2 separate regions of the Homo sapiens genome follow, and region 2 is linked to region 1. Evidence: fine-mapped expression QTL. Tissue or cell type: whole blood. Region 1 holds a variant in brackets; the other region holds the start of a gene. All regions are shown on one strand. Distances are from middle to middle.

Region 1 (5,303 bases):
GTTGCAGTGAGCCGAGATTCCAGCCTGGATGACAAAGTGAGACTCCATCTCAAAACAAAACACAAAAAACAAAAACAAAAAAAAACCCACTATTCTGAATAGGGGTTCATAGGCTTCATCAGACTGCCAAGGGGGACATGGAGACAGACATGGGTATCAGCCCTGCCTGGGCCATTGATCGCTGTGTGGTATTGGACTTGTTATTTCAGGCACATTCACCCCTGCGTGGCTCACCCCAGAGGGCTGTTGGGAGGAACAAATTAATTCTTGGCTGGGAGAGGGTTTTGGAAATTGTTGGAGGCTTTCTAGTTTTGCCAAAAGCCAGGGCAGAGCGCTTTCTTCCTCCCAGCTGATCTCCAGGCCTCCAGGAAGCCTCTCCCTCCCAGAGGATTCCTCCCCTGTACTCTCCATCTGATAAAGAGGCTGAAGTGCACCCTCATTAGTGTAGGCTCTCCAGCTCCCAGTCTGCTCAGACCCACAGCTCAGGGGAGGAATGTTCTGGAGGATAATAACAGTTCCCTCCAGCTTTCATATTTGACCTTACAGTGACTCTTGAGGACACCGCCTCCCTCAGAGCCCTCCCCTGCTTCCTCAGATGGTGCCCCTCTGTGTCCAGGTCCTTGCATTTCCCTTTTTACTGCCCTGTGCTGTGATCGTCAGTCAGTCTGACTCCTCCATCAGACTGTGTGTTTCTCAACGGCAGGCCCAGATCTGATCCCTCTCAGGGGCCCTAGGGCCCACCCAGGTCAGGGCAGCGGCACAATCAGCATCTGAGGAGCTGGCCTGGGTGAGGACAAGGAACCCAAAGCTCAGAGAGAAACAGCAGGGAAGGGGTAGAGCTGGGCTGGAGCCCAGATCCCCTGATACCCACGGCCCGTTCCCCACACGTCCAAACCAAGGGCGAAGGAATCGGGGGTGCCCGAGGCACCACAGTAACTATTTCCTACCCTACCCACTGCTGTGAAAAATGTAGAGCTAAGGCACTGAAGGTGCTGTATGAAGCCCTTCCAGATGGCGTAAGGCAACAGGGTACATGGGGGAAGCCAAGGCACTGAGAGCCCCTTCAGACTGTGGTTCTCTGATGCTAGTGAGAACACTGCCCTTGTTCTCTGGAAGTAATTTTTCAAAATGGACAGGTCTGCTGACTTTCTTTGCTGGTCAGTGTGGGGAAGGAGGTTACCGTCTGGGCCCATCCACACCCATATTCGGCTCCTTGTCCCAGGCCAGTGGCAGGCAGTATGAACAGAAGAGTGTGGACATTGTCCGTGCACGAGCTAGCTCTCAGCGAGACTAGCAGGGACTCCAGATGATGAGGACATCTAAAAGCCCGCTAGAAAAGAGGCACCATGAAAGCCGCAGAAAGAGCAAGGACTTCCTACTAGGCCGCCCCCGGTTAAAATCTCGTGGGCTTAGGAACTCCGGGAAATGGCTTCTCTCTGGCCCTCAGCTCTCACCTTTAACACGGATGCGAACATCCCCGGGCCCCTGGGTTTTTGCGGAGGTTGGGTGAGGTTGTGTTCACTCTCCTCACTGACCCCGCCGTGTGGTCGCCGGCTGGTGCCTTGTCTGTCTGCCCCAGCCCCGAATGCCCCGAGACTCCCGGCGCCGGCTCGGTGCAGGTAAGGCGCCCGCGCCCTGGCCTCGAATTCCCGCCCCGCCACTCTGGCCGCGTCGTGCTGTCGTTGCGCACCCAGCGCCCTCGTGCAGGCAGGGGGAGCGCAGTGGGGAGGGGGCAGGAAGCGCAGGCAGAGCCAGGCGAGCACGCGGCTCCCGGCCCAGCTCCCCGCGTCCGCTCCGGCTCCTGCCGCGTTCCAGCAGCCGTCACTCCCGCCGCCGGCCCCCGCCGCCCGCCCCGCCTGCCCCTACCCCTCCGCGCGGGCCGGGCACCTGGCCGCCGCTCGGTCCTCGGGGCCCCGCGCTGCTGTCTCTGTCTCGGCTTCTCTCGGCCCCTGGGTCTCTTCGTCTCTGCCGTTCTCAGGCTCAGCTCCGTCTCGCTCGGTCCCTCGCTTCCCCGCCGGGCTCTAGCCGGCCGTCTGGTGGCCCGAGGTGGCGGCGGGCTGGGCGCGGGGCGCGATGAGCGGCGCCTGCACGAGCTACGTGAGCGCAGAGCAGGAGGTGGTGCGCGGCTTCAGCTGCCCGCGGCCGGGGGGCGAGGCGGCCGCTGTCTTCTGCTGCGGCTTCCG[C/G]GACCACAAGTACTGCTGCGACGACCCGCACAGCTTCTTCCCCTACGAGCACAGCTACATGTGGTGGCTCAGGTACCGTCCCTGGCCCTCACCCTACCTTGAACCCCACTCCAGTCTCAGCGCCTTCACCCCAGCCTCAGCCCCCACCCGAGTGTCCACCTGAACATCAGCAGCAAGCTCTAGTCCTTACCGTCCTCATGCCCACAGCATCAACCACCCCGTGAAACCCCATCTCAGCTCGATTTCCTCATCCTGACCCCAACCATTATTTAGAGCCATGCTCGGACCTCCCCCTCCTCTAATCCAAAACAATCCTCACTCTATCCCCACCCCAAACTTCATTCCATCACCACCCTCATCCCAACCCCAAATCACATATCAAGCCTCCCCCTAACAGCAACTTCCATCTTCAAACATTCACAGGCAGCCCAACTCCACCCCAATCATCATCCCACCAAGGTGCCCTTCCTAATATCAACACCAGCCTTATTCCTGACTTTCCACACTCCCCAGTACTGACCCCAGACCTTATTCTATCACCAGCCCCAACCTCCTCTTCTGTCCTGCCTGCAGTCCCACCTCAGCTCTTCTCCCACATCCTGACTCCAAATATTATTAATATCTAGATCTACATCCAAACCTCAACCTCCAGACTTAACCCTCGCCTGGTGCTACACCCCAACCCCAGCCTCAGCCCAGCGTCAACCCTTGGTTCCCTTTTGTATTTAGTCATTCTTTCGGGCACTCTCTACTGAGCACTTGGTGTGTGCCAAGCCCTGTGGTGAGTGCTGGGGATGTACCCCATCCTCAAGCTAAGGCAGAAGACTCGGGAGTCAGAGCTGCCTCCAAGTTCATCATGAGACAATGGCATAGTGCAGAAGCTAGCTCAGGCCATATTCATAGAAGTGTTGACTCTCCACCCATAGGACCTCAGTTTCCCCATTTGTTCAGGGAAGAGGTTGCATTCCTGGAGCCTAAGTGTTGGCTTGAGAGGGTAATAGGTCTCAATCCCCCTGGGTCTCCAAAGGCCTTACCTGGAGAATGGAACTTGATCCTCAGCCTACTTTGGGAAACAGGCATCAGCAAAAATTGAGTGGGCCATCTCAGTAGTTAGTGATTTTCCTGTCCCTGGAGGTATATGAGCAGAGGCTGCTGCCCTCTGGGTGGGAAAGGACAGTGTCCTATGCCACGAAAACTTCTCAAGTCTCTGGCTTTTCATCTATCAAACGGGCAGTAGGATGATCAATCATTGCCCTGATTTCTGACTAAGGCAGTGGTAACGGTCAAATGACATACATAACAGAGCTGAAATCAACTTGACATATGCCAATGACAATTACAAATATTATTGCTTTTTCTAGGTGACTCGATCCACAATTCTAAATGATTTTCAGATGGCCAGGTTATCAGATCCTACATATTTGTGCTATCTATAACCCAGGGAATTATATTAATGTATTTTCTGTTCATCCATATATTCATTCATTCATTCATTCATTCTAGCCTTTACTTTGTGCCAGGCACTTTGCAAGGTATTGGAGACACAAAAATCAATTATTCCCTGCCCCTGAGGAACTCACAGTTTATTTAGAGATACAATGGTATTCACTTGACAAGTTCATTTTGCTTGCTGCCCAAAAAAACCAATGCACTGAGAACAACAGGTTTTGCAGCAAAGAAAGAGTTTAATAATCACAGGGCCAACCAAGTGGCAAAATAGGACATAATTCTCAAATCCACACCCTCATTCCCCACCCCCCACCCCACCAGAGAATTCGGAGACTATGGTTTCTCAAGGAATGGTGGCAGATGGGGCTAGGGAATAGGGAATGCCAATTGGTTGGGTTAGGGATAAAATCGTAGGGGATCAAAGCTACCTTCTTGCACTGAGTCAGTTGCTGGGTAGGGGAGCTCACAAGACCAGTTGAGCCAGTTTATTGGTATGGGTTACTGGTCCAGGTGGCACCAACTGGTCTATCAAAATGAAAGGTCTGAAAGATACCTCAAACACCAGTTTTAGGTTTTACAACTCCTCCTATAGGAGGAGTTGAGGAGATTACAAATCATGTGACCTCCAGCTACACGACTCCTGAACCATAATTCTAACCTTGTGGTTAATTTGTTAGTTTAACAAAGGCAGTTGCAGTCCCTGAGCAAGGAGGGTGTTAGTTTTAGGAAGGGGCTGTTATCATCTTTGTTTTAAAGTTAAACTATAAACTAAATTCCTCTTATAGTTAACTTGGCCTGTGCCCAGGAATGAAGAAAGACAGCTCGTAAAGTTAGACACAAGATGGAGTCAGCTATGTCAGATTTCTCTCACTGTGATAATTTTTCTGTATCAGATTTCTCTTACTGTGATAATATTCACTAGGGCACTTTCACAACATTCACCTAAAGTGAAACAATGAAGTTTTGTTGAAGGCCCACTGTGTAGTTGGCATTGAGCTAGGCTCTGAAATAAGATGGCACTGACCTCCCTTGTAAGTACAGAGACAATGTGGAGCTTTGGGGCTGGTCAGAATCTGTCACTTATTATCTATGTGGATTGGAAAAGTTATTTAACTTCCTAGTATTTTCTCTCAACTTTAAAATGGTGATAGAGATATTTGTGTGATAGTACAGAGACAGTGTGGAGCTTTGGGGCTGGTCAGAATCTGTCACTTATTATCTATGTGGATTGGAAAAGTTATTTAACTTCCTAGTATTTTCTCTCAACTTTAAAATGGTGATAGAGATATTTGTGTGATAGTACAGAGACAGTGTGGAGCTTTGGGGCTGGTCAGAATCTGTCACTTATTATCTATGTGGATTGGAAAAGTTATTTAACTTCCTAGTATTTTCTCTCAACTTTAAAATGGTGATAGAGATATTTGTGTGATGGAATTGTAAGAACTAAGAGAAATAATGCACATGAAAGTGACCAGTGCATATGTTAGGTGCTCAATAAGAGAGTTCCCTTTCCTTGGTTCATAGGTGTGGGAAGTGAAATTCAGTGTGGAAGTGAATTGTCCGAGATCTCCTAGCAATATCATAGCAGACTGAGACTTAAAGAACATTACCTAAGACTATCCAAGGGTTAGATGCTCTCACACATTCACAACCCTGGCACTTCTCATTTTA
Region 2 (5,369 bases), 32 kb before region 1:
TATCTGGATTTTTTTTTTTTTTTTTGAGACGGAGTTTCACTCTTGTTGCCCAGGCTGGACTGCAATGGCATGATCTTGGCTCACCGCAACCGCCGCCTCCTGGGTTCAAGTGATTCTCCTGCCTCAGCCTCCTGAGTAGCTGGAATTACAGGCATGCACCACCACGCTCGGCTAATTTTGTATAAACATGTGAGCCACCTCGCCCGGCTCATCTATCTGGATTTTAACAGGAAATAGCTTGGCCAAACTTGCAACACTCCAAGTTATATGAAGTAGAATTTGAGAACTCCTGGTTACTGGGACACTCAAGAAGGGGCTGAGTGAAAGGGACAGGTGGCAGGAAGAGAGCCCAATGGTTCCAGAAGGCAGAGAGAGAAGAGACCATTTAATAGCTGTGGGACCCATCACAGGCTTAAGGCTCCCAAAAGAGATGGGGAAGAAGGAGCAGGATGGGCAGGGGCACCTTATGTATGCCTTGGCCCTTGCCTGGAGCGCCGTTTCCTCTGCTCTCCACCTCTCCTGATAATATTGCCTTCTCCTGAAGAGTGAGGCCACCTTGGTGGTGCAGAAAAATCCCATGGTCTACACCTGAAGGCCTGGGTTCGAGTCCTAGTAACTATATGATCTTGTGGCCAGCTTCAAAACCTTTGCTTGCCACACTCTAGAGAGTGACTTGGCACTCAAGGCCCTTCTCTATCCTGATGACCCTTCCAATCTCATCTGCCCCACACCCCTTCTCACCTCAAACAGCCAAGCACTTCTCTGACTCTGTGCTGTCATAGATACTGCTCTTTCAGTCTGACGTTGTTGCCCTGACCCTCCTAGAGAATTCCCATTCCTCTTTCAAGATATAACTCCAGTATCACCTCACACCTCCAGAAGGCCTTGCCTGGCTGCTCAGGCTAGGTAGCAACTGCCTCTGGGTCTCTAGGAGGTAGCCCTGGAGCTACGTCAACTCCAACATCTAGACCACATCTGCTCTTGCCCTTTCCTATCAACTCCACAGAACAGCCAGAAGGATTTTTTTTTTGAGATAGTGTCTGTGTCACCCAGGTTGGAGTGCAGTGGTATGATCATAGCTCACTGCAACCTTGAACTCCTGGGCTCAAGCAATCCTCCTGCCTCAGCCTCCTAAATAGCTAGAACCACAGGCACATGCTACCACACGAGGCTAATTTTTAATTTTTATTTTTTTAGATGGAGTCTCGCTCTATCACCCAGGCTGGAGTACAGTGGCACAATCTCTGCTCACTGCAACCTCTGCCTCCCGGGTTCAAGTGATTCTCCTGCCTCAGCCTCCCAAGTAGCTGGGACTACAGGCGTGTGCCACCACACCTGGCTAATTTTTTGTATTTTTAGTAGAGATGGGGTTTCACTGCATTAACCAGGATGGTCTCGTTCTCCTGACCTTGCGATCTGCCTGCCTAGGCCTCCCAAAGTGCTGGGATTACAGGCGTAAGCCATCGCGCCTGGCCTAATTTTTTAATTTTTTGAAGAGACAGTTCTTGCTAGGTTGCCCAGGCTGGTCTTGAACGCCTGGCCTCAAGCAATCCTCCAGTCTTGGCTTCCCAAAGTATTGGGATTACAGGTGTGAGCCACCGGGCCCTGTCGAAAGAGATCTTTCTACAACAAAAGACTCATTGTGATACCTCCCTGCTAAAAAGAACCTTCATTTCTTGGTTTAAAGACCACAGTCCCTACTGTGGCCTACTAGGCTCTGTGTGATCTCACTCCCTCCTGCCTCTCCACCTTTCCCTCTCATCCTTTGTCCTCTCTGTTCCAACCAAATGAGGCTTCTTTGTTACTCAATGCACCATGTTCCTTTCCCCCCAGGACCTTTGCACTTGTATGTTGCTTCATCCTGACCAATTTCTCCTCATTCTTCAGAGCTCAGCTCAAATCTCCCTTTTTCTGGAAAGCCCTCCATGGCCCTCCAGGCTAGTTTAGGTGGTACTCACCACAACAGTAATTTTAGAGCTATTTATAAATTATTTAATTCCTGTGTCTCCCTGGATAGAGATAATGCCCTCCTGTTCATCCCTGCCTAAGAATCACCTAAAGCAAAACTTGGCATAGAAAAGGTGCTCAGGAAGTTTTTGTTGATGACCACAGGAGTGCTTAGCCCTTACCACATTACATAAAATCTGCAGTTTACCTGGTTTCTCTCACACCAGTCTGTGAGTTTCCAGAAAAAACTCACAGCCTGTGAGTACAGGATCCAGCTCCATGTTTGACATTTCATGGGCTCAACAGGGGTTTTCTGAGCAGGGGGAGACATTGTGATGTGCTGCCCAGATCCCCCATCACTGAGGACTTAGGACAGACACCAGCTGCTAGGAGTGCTGTTAGCACAAAGCCTTTAATGTCAGCTTCTCCACAGACAGGGCCATCTTGGCCCTTGTTGCCCCACTTGCCAGGTGGCCCCACATCCAAGGACTGATAAAGGCAGGATGACCTGGCCATCTTAGCTCATCTGATGGGCTACTCTAGCTCTAGAGTCCCTGTCGAGTCAGCTAAAACTGTCTTGGGGCCTGCATGGAGCTCACTACTTTCCCCCTGTGCCACTCCTGTTCCCTCCCATCCTTCCCACGCCTGTTGATCCCAAGGGTGCTCCCTCATAAACATCCTGCACTCCAATCTCCATCTCAGAATCTGCTTCCAGGAACCTAACCTGCAACAGGCCCACGGTCCTCTCTTCTTCTCCCAGCCATCACTTTCAGGGAACATGCATTCATTCACCTGAAGTTTGCAGGCACCATTCAACTGTTAAAGTGTTTCGCATCCGTTTTTCTATTACTTCCATCCTATACCGACTAGCTCCACTTAACATGTGGAGAAACTGAGGTCGGAGTGGGGGCGTGACCAGGCCAGCCTAAGGCCGCTGCACTAATGAGAAGCTGAGCTCTCAGATTTTTGCCTCCCTGTCCCTGCCAAGTCGCTGTTTCCTGGGACAAGAGGGAGCCTCACTGAAACGAACTCCGGTCTCAGGGGACAGAATCCTGAAACCCTGGCTCTGGGGTCCGGGGCAGGGGTGCGCTGCCTCAGGACAGACGGTGAAACTGAGGTCCAGAGCCGGACATCCACCGCCTGCGGAGGGAACGAGAACGCGGCGCGTCCTGCCTTGCGGGCCGAGCGGCGCCAGAGCCGCCTCCTCCCGCCCCCCGCGCTAGATCCCCCCGCCCCGTCTTTGCCCTCGCGACGCCGCCACCTCCGGAACAAGCCATGGTGGCGGCGACGGTGGCAGCGGCGTGGCTGCTCCTGTGGGCTGCGGCCTGCGCGCAGCAGGAGCAGGACTTCTACGACTTCAAGGCGGTCAACATCCGGGGCAAACTGGTGTCGCTGGAGAAGTACCGCGGATCGGTGAGTGCGCGGGGTCTGGCGGCGCCGCTGGGCCCGGCCTCGCCCTGGCGGGGCCTGCTGGGGACGCCCCGCAGCCCGGTCCCCCGCGCGGTGTGGCTCCGAGGACGCTCCAGCCGCGCGGCCGCCAAACCCCGGCCCCCGCCCCGCTCGGCCGTGACCTCTGGCGCGGCGCCCCCATCCCGCGCCCGGCCCGGCCCGGCCCGCGGCTACGTGGCACGGCCTTGGCGCGGAGGAACCCGAAGCGCTCGCAGTCGGCGCCCACTTCGCTACCGGCACCTTTGGGCAGCGGGGTCCAGACCTTCGCCGGGAGGCCGGGCACCACTGCCCAGCCTTTGCCATTCACGGGTGAAAAAAGTAACCGTAGCATCGTGCGGCCTTTCCCTCTCCCGTCCTCATTTTCTGCATCTGGAACGGGGAGTGGCTGATTCGGAGTCCAGTGAAGAACACTGTGGAGATCAATGTGCAGGGCAGAGAGAGAGTTATTTCAGATGCACGGAGACCTCACACGGATCATCCCTGGGAGAGGGCACAAAGGCCCAGAGAGGGCAGGCATTCGCACAAGGTCACACTACACTAGAAAGACGGGGCCTGGAAGAGAACCCCACCGCCACATCCGGGGTCCTCTCTAGGCCAAGTCCTTAGATGGCAGCTCAGGGGCACACATAAGAGTCATCCAGGCTAATTGCCCCCTCATTACCAAGAGGGAATCTAAGCTCAGAGAAGACTTCGGAGAGGAAGGGTATCTGGGTTGAGTCTTTGAATACGAGTGGATTTTAGCAAGACTAAGAAGCAAACAGCAAGAAGGGGGTGGGGGGGCGCGGGGCCAGGAGTTCCAGCTGTTGTGCTTCAAAGAGTCTAAAGCTGGAGGCTACGAGTGGTGGAAGATGAGGCTGAAACGACTGGCAAGGGAGCAGGCGGGACCTTGAACACTACATTGAGAGGCCTGCATGTCACATTATGTGCAGTGAAGAACTCCCAGAGTGGACCTCTTCAGGATGGACCTGGGGACTGGTGTGAAATGGCTGGGGAGTTGAAATCTAATGAACAGGTGGGCCAGCGTCCAGTTTTGGATGAACCACACAAAAATAGATGTCAACATTTTTCTCCTGGGAGCAACACCATCTTTAGTGAAGACCAGTACTCTATAAGCCTTGAAATTTTCGATTATGCTGGGAGTCTTGGGGACAGTAATCCCTGCTTGATTGTCCCCCAGAGTGTCGTGAGTTTCAAATCAGATGAAGGCGTGGATGCACTTAGTAAACTGTAGAGTGCTTTGCACCTGTGTTTGGTGGATCCCAGCAGGAACTTCATTTAGAACTCTGGGCAAAGAACCAAGAACAGGGCCCGCTCCAATTCAGGCCTCCTGTTCTCTCTAGGGCAGCTCACCAGAGAGCCCCAGGTTTAGCGTCTGACCAGCTCTGCTACTTATTAATTCGTTGTTCATTATTGAACACCTACTGTATACTAACTAGATACTAGGTCAGGCCCTGGGGATACAGTGGTGAACAAAACAGATACATTTCCACTAAATGGAGCTTACATGGGGTAAGGAGAAGAAAGACAATAAACAAGGAACTGAGAAATGCACGAGGTAATTCCTAGTAGTAGTAAGTGCTAAGACAAAAATAGAACAAGGTCACACAGCTAGTAAGACAGTAAGAATTTGAACCCAGACAGTCCAGCTCCAGAGTCTATGCTCTTAGTTGCCAAGTTCAGCAGTAAACCAGGGAACAGGGAGTCCAGAAAAGCTGTAATTGGTGCTGAGTTAACCCAGGCTAGGCTTGCTGCTTGGGCAATATGCTCATTCCTTCACCTGCAAACATTTACTGGCTCCTACTACATGTCTGACACTGGGTCCAGCTCTGATGACATAGTCATGAGCAAGATTGACATGGTTGATGCCCTCAGGCTAATTGGGACCATAGTCATTTAGACCAGTATGGATGAATGGGTGACCACTTGGGAATGTGTGGGGTTATGTGTAGTGTGTGCCTTTGTGAATGGTTTAC

What was found. PIP is the estimated chance that this variant, and not a neighbour inherited with it, causes the effect.
Region 2: GPX7 starts here. The variant in region 1 is fine-mapped to the expression of GPX7 in whole blood (TOPMed, PIP above 0.99).

What each region holds. Positions count from the first base shown.
Region 1 is chr1:52,631,421-52,636,723 of GRCh38, forward strand. It overlaps SHISAL2A (shisa like 2A), which reads left to right and starts at 1,748. Exons shown (of 3, transcript NM_001042693.3): 1 at 1,748-2,255. The coding sequence starts at 2,074. LOC124904178 (a long non-coding RNA gene) reads right to left here and starts at 2,035. Exons shown (of 2, transcript XR_007066084.1): 1 at 1,888-2,035. RefSeq lists silencers at 1,626-1,735, 1,826-2,015, 2,026-2,075. The variant C/G (reference allele first, on the strand shown) is at 2,184.
Region 2 is chr1:52,599,188-52,604,556 of GRCh38, forward strand. It overlaps GPX7 (glutathione peroxidase 7), which reads left to right and starts at 3,184. Exons shown (of 3, transcript NM_015696.5): 1 at 3,184-3,360. The coding sequence starts at 3,223.